Linked DNA regions of Homo sapiens: region 2 is linked to region 1. The links come from fine-mapping of genetic effects on gene expression. A gene starts in region 1. The other region holds a variant in brackets. All regions are shown on one strand. Distances are from middle to middle. Region 1 holds the start of RTN4RL1 (reticulon 4 receptor like 1). Region 2 overlaps RPA1 (replication protein A1).

Region 1 (2,873 bases):
TCTCGCTCTGTCACCCAGGCAGGAGTGCAGTGGTGTGATCTCGGCTCATTGCAATCTCCATCTCCTGTGTTCAAGAGATTCTCCCGTAGCCTCCCAAGTAGCTGGGATTACAGGCGCACACCACCACGCTCGGCTAATTTTTGTATTTTTAATAGAGACGGGGTTTCACCTTGGCCAGGCTGGTCTCGAACTCCTGACCTCAAGTGATCTGCTCAGCCTCCCAAAGTGCTGGGATTACAGGTGTGAGCCACCGCGCCCAGCCTGGCCCTTTTTTTTTTTTTTTTTTTGAGACAGAGTCTCACTCTGTCACCCAGGCTGGAGTGCAGTGGCGCGATCTCGGCTCACTGCAACCTCCGCCTCCCGGGTTCAAGCGAGTCTCCTGCCTCAGCCTCCCGAGTACCTGGGATTACAGGCGCCTGCCACCATGCCCGGCTAATTTTTGTATTTTTATTAGAGACCGGGTTTCACCATGCGGGCCAGGGTGGTCTCGAACTCCTGACCTCGTGATCTGCCTGCCTCCGCCTCCCAAAGTGCTAGGATTACAGGCGTGAGCCACCGCGCCCGGCCCTGACCTTCTTTTTGACCTTCCTATCATGTCACCTTTTCCTACAAGGAGGGATTCAGTTGGATTTCTGCTTGGATGTCACCTGCTCAGAGCAGCTTTCCTTGACTGCCACCTCTACCCCCGTGTCAGCTCCAGAACAATACTCTGCTTGTTTTTCTTCGAAGCACAATCTTCCCATCTTCTCTGGACTTTCCTCATTTGGCCCCTATTAAAATGGAAACTCCTTGAGGACAGGGCAAAGACAAGTCTTTTTCGTCTGCTGAATTTTCAGGAACAGTAGTGCCCCACACATGCTGAGCCTTCGGTGAATGTGTGTTGAATGACAGCCTTGGTCCATCCGCTTTTTCTTCTCTCCGAATCCCTCTGATCCCAGGCCAGCAGGGGGTGCCGCCTCCACCCAGGATCTCGCCTGGCCCGAACCTTCTCTTCCCTCAGCTCAACAGGCCCCTGCGGGACCCGCTTTCCAAGCGGCGCCTCCTCCATTTTCCGCGAACCCCCCGGCGGGGTCTGTGTGGACCAAGGGAGATCAGAGACCCCCCGCCGCCACCCCACCCAGGCGGAGACGGCCCACCCGAACCCGCACGGGTCCTTCCTTCTCCCTGGAATTTGCAGCTGGCCCTTTCCGAATGCTTGCTCCCCTCCTCTCCCCACGAAAGAACAGTGTCCTGGGACTCGGGGTGCGGGGCAGCCGGGTTCGCTGGAGCTGTTCAGTGCGGGGAAGAGCCGTCGAGACTGGGAGAAGGGGCGCTGGCCAGGGAGGAGACGGGGCAGGGAGCGGACTCGCGATCCGTACTCTGGGCGGCGGTCCTCGCGTCCCAGCCGCGTCTCCCGATGACCTCCAGCCGCGAAGGGCGAGCGGGCGGGGGCTGGGCTGCGGGTTCGGGCTCCAGGAGGCCTGCGGGGCCGGGGAGGGGCGTGGAGTGGTCCGAGGACCGGCTTGGGGACTGGGGGCAGGTGCCTGGACGGACGCGGGCCGAGCATCTTCCCCGGGGGCGGGCGCAGTGAAAACACCTTGGGAGGCGGCGCCGCGCGGCTGAGCGCTGCTGCCTTGGGAATAGGACGGCGCTCGGCACTGCGAGCTGAGAGCACTTTCATAAATTTTGTATGGGAGGCGCTCCGTGAGCGGGGGCGGGGAGCGGAGCGAGAGGGAGGGAGCTAGAGAGCAAGGGAGGGAGGGAGGAGGAGAGGAGGGGGAAGCCGGGGGGAGGAAGGGAGGCGCCCCGCTCCGCCGATCGCTCGGTCCTGCAAACGCGCGCCGGGCGCTTTCCCCGGAGCTCGGCGGTGCGTGCGAGCGCCCTTTTGCTGCAGCCGCGGCGGCGGTGGTCCGAGGGGGCGGAGAGGAGGGGGCTGCGGCCGGCCGGCCAGGGGGCGGCGTCCCCCCTCAAAACCGCCTGCGAAGTGCTCCGGGTGGCAGAAGCAGGCCGCCGGCTCCGCGGAGCAAGCCGCTCGCCCCGGGGCTGAGCAAGCGCGCGGGGCTGCCGGGCAGCACCACGGTTGCTTGCGGGCGCCGGTGCCCTCGGCGCGGGGCTGGAGCTCACCATGCCCCTGCGGGGCCGGGCCACCGGGCACGAGCGGATCCCCGGCTTGCCCCCGCCTCGACGCGCTCGGATTAGCTGCAGCTGGCGCCCAGGGATTTGAATCTGGACCCCGGGAGGGAGTGCGCCTAGGCCGACCTCGGAGCGGCGGCCCCGTGGCCAACATGCTTCGCAAAGGTGAGTTGGAGCCGCAGGGGCAAGTTGAAGTTGAATGCGCTCCGGAAAGAGCCGCGAGCCCGGGCGCCGCCCGGCGCCGGGGCTCCCGGTCTGGGAAGTAGCCCCCGGCGGGCTGGTGGGTTTTGCCGGGCGCACCCGCCGAGGGGCTGCTGCTGGGGCTCAGCTCCCGTCAGCGGCCAGTTGTGAGACACGGGGTTTTCTCCATGGATCGAGTGGCCAGGCCTAGAGATCCGGCCCGGAGGGGTCAGTCGGAGACCAGAGTGAGCGGCCGGTGGTGGAAGGGGAGCCGGCCTCCTGGGACCTTTGCTTTGCTGGGATAAAGTTTTGCACTTGCAGCCTCCATTCCCTGCGCGGGCACACGCCCTTGCTTCTGCCGCTTTGTGGAGGCCGAGTCCGCACGGCGCCCCCGTGCAGCCAGCGGTCAGTGACCGCGCGGCCCGGGCGCTCCCCGCGCGCCCTAGCTCCCCAGACGGGGCCCGGACGCGGACGTCTTCTCTGCAGTTCTGCTCTGATCGCTAGGGATGGGCTCTGGGCACCCAGCGGCTGAGGGTGGGGAGCGGCCAGCGCCTGATGTCCAGTTCCTCAAACTTTCATTA
Region 2 (2,902 bases), 140 kb after region 1:
AATCAAGTATTCCTGTCTCTCTTCTTTGAATACACAAATAAGAAAGCAAACAGCCTTACTGCTGATATGGAGTAAGCTGTAGTGGTCTAGATAGAATATCAAGCAAGCCACAACATTCTCTTAAGCCAAAGCCTAACCCAGAGCAAGGCCTCACCTTTCTTCAATTCTGTGAAGGCTGAGAGAGGTCAGGAAGCTGCAGAAGAGGCCAGGTGCAGTGGCTCACACCTGTAATCCCAGCACTTTGGGAGGCAGAGGCAACATGATTGCCTAAGCCAAGGAGTTCGATACCAGCCAGGCAACATAGTGAGACCTAGTCTCTACAAAAATCTGTCAGGGCACGGTGGTGTGCACCTGTAGTCCCAGCTACTCCAGAGGCTGAGGTGAGCTGTGATTGCACCACTGCACTCCAGCCTGGGTGACAGAGTGAGACTCTGTCTCAAAAAAAAAAAAAAAAAAAGCTGCAGAAGAAAAGATGGCAGCCAGCAGATGTTGGTTCATGAGGTTTAAGGAAATAAGCCGTCACCATAACAAAAGTGCAAGGTGAAGCAGCAAGTGCTGATGGAGAAGCTGCAGCAAGTTATCCAGAAGATCTAGCTAGGACCACCAATGAAGGTGGCTGCACTCAACAACAGATTTTCAACGTAGACAGAATAGCCTTCTGGAAGAAGATGCCATCAAGAACATTCGTCCTAGAGAGTAGAAATCAATGCCTGGCTTCAAAGCTTCAAAGGAAAGGCTGACTCTCCTGTTAGGCGCGAATGCAGCTGGGGACTATAAGGTGAAGCCAGTGCTCATTGACCATGTCAAAAATCTTAGGGCTCATAAGAACTATGCTAAATCTACTTTGCCTCTGCTTTATAAATAGAATATCAAAGCTTGGATGACAGCATATCTATTTATAGTGTAGTTTATTGAATATTTTAAGCCCACTGTTGAGACCTACTACTCAGAAAAAGAGACTCCTTTAAAAATATGACTGCTCATTGACAATGCACCTGTTCACCCGAGAGCTCAATGGAGACACACAGTACGAGGAGATTAATATATTGACAATGCACCTGTTCACACAAGAGCTCAATGGAGACACACAGTACAAGGAGATTAATATATTGACAATGCACCTGTTCACCCAAGGGCTCAATGGAGACACACAGTACAAGGAGATTAATATATTGACAATGCACCTGTTCACC[C/T]GAGGGCTCAATGGAGATGCACAGAACAAGGAGATTAATATTGTTTTCATGCTTGATAACAACATCTATTCTGCAGCCCATGCAAATCAAGGAGTAATTTTGACTTTTTAAGTCTAAGAGACATATTTCATGAGGCGATAGTTGCCACAGTGATTCCTCTGATGGATCTGGGGAAAGTAAATTGAAAACCTGAAAAGGATTCACCATTCTAGATGCTATTAAGAACAGTTGGCTGGGCACAGTCGCTCACACCTGTAACTCCTGGCACTTTGAGAGGTTGAGGCAGGGAGATCCCTTGAGCCCAGGAGTTTGAGAGCAGCCTGGGCAACATGACACAACTCAGTCTCTACAAAAAATACAATTAGCCAGGTGTGGCAGCACCTGTAGTCCCAGCTTGGGAGCCTGGGGAGGTTGAGACTGCAGTGAGCTGTGATCAAGCCAGTGCACTCCAGCCTGAGTGACAGAATGAGACCCTGTCTCAAGTTAAAAAAAAAAGGAACATTCATGATTCATGGGAGGAGATCAAAATCCCAACATCAACGGGAGTTTGGAACAAGTTGATTCCAACCCTCAAGGTAGACACTGAGGCTTCAAGACTTTGGTGGAGGAGGGATCTGTAGATGTGACGAAAATAACGAGAGAACTAGAATTACAAATGGAGCCTGAAAATGGGCCTGAACTGCTGTAATCTCACGATCAAACTTGAACGGATAAGGAGCTGCTCCTTACGATGGGCAAGGAAAGTGCTTTCTTGAGATGAAATCTCTTGTGGTGAGAACGCTGTGAGCATTGTTGAAATGACGACAAAGGATTTAGAATTTGCATAAGCTTGGCTGATAAAGCAGTGACAGGACCTGAGAGGGAGAGACTCCAGTTTGAAAAAGTTCTCCTGTGGGTAAAATGCTGTCAAACAGCATCGCCGGCTATGGAGAAAGCTTTTGTGAAAGGAAGAGTCAACCAATGTGGCACACTTCACTGCTGTCTTATTTTAAGAAACTGCCAAAGACACGCCGATGTTCAGCAACCATCGCCGTGACTGCTCAGCCATCAACCCTGAAACAAACCCCCACCAGCAAGAAGATTACGACTCAGATGATTGTCAGCATTTTTCAGCAATAAAGTTTTTGTTTCAAGAGAAGGGGTCTTCCATGTTGCTCAGTCGAACTCCTGGGCTCATGTAATCCACCTGCCTCAGCCTCCTGGGTAGCTGGGATTACAGAGAACCGAAAGAGTGGGTGTCCCATGACAGGACAACGAGGATCTGTCCAGTGTTTAATTCTTGAGATGTTCTATAAGAGCACTTAAGAGCTGCTGTTGACAATGATGGATAAGGGTATACAGTGAAATGAGACAGGAGGAATGAAACCTACACTGTATATGATGAAAATAAAAGAGCAGGCGTAAAGGAGAAATAAATGATCTAAATACTAAACTGCTGGCAGAACACAGGCTTAGATCAAGATGGGAGGAGGGTCATTAAATACAAACACTGAAAGGAAAAAGCTGCAACTAAAAGTCAAATGTCAGGGCCAATCCTTGTCCGGGAATGCCGGCAGCTCTCAGCCTATGAGGTTAATACACTATTCTACAGCCAGGAACAGCACCCGTGAAACTGCCTCATGTCTGACCTGAGGCGGACTAACGCTCATCTCAAAAAACATCTTTTTGATATGTGGGCGCTTAAATTTGCAGGAAGGATCACAGGAAAG

The links. PIP is the estimated chance that this variant, and not a neighbour inherited with it, causes the effect. A credible set is the group of variants that fine-mapping cannot tell apart.
Region 2: its variant is the best candidate, but not a certain one, in a credible set for the expression of RTN4RL1 in left ventricle (GTEx, PIP 0.66).

What each region holds. Positions count from the first base shown.
Region 1 is chr17:2,024,257-2,027,129 of GRCh38, reverse strand. RTN4RL1 (reticulon 4 receptor like 1) reads left to right here and starts at 1,796. Exons shown (of 2, transcript NM_178568.4): 1 at 1,796-2,277. The coding sequence starts at 2,265. RefSeq lists enhancers at 735-1,235, 2,404-2,873.
Region 2 is chr17:1,884,261-1,887,162 of GRCh38, reverse strand. The region is part of intron 13 of RPA1 (replication protein A1); the gene reads right to left. Among named protein-coding and RNA genes, the nearest start is that of RPA1, 56 kb to the right of the region's middle. The variant C/T (reference allele first, on the strand shown) is at 1,194.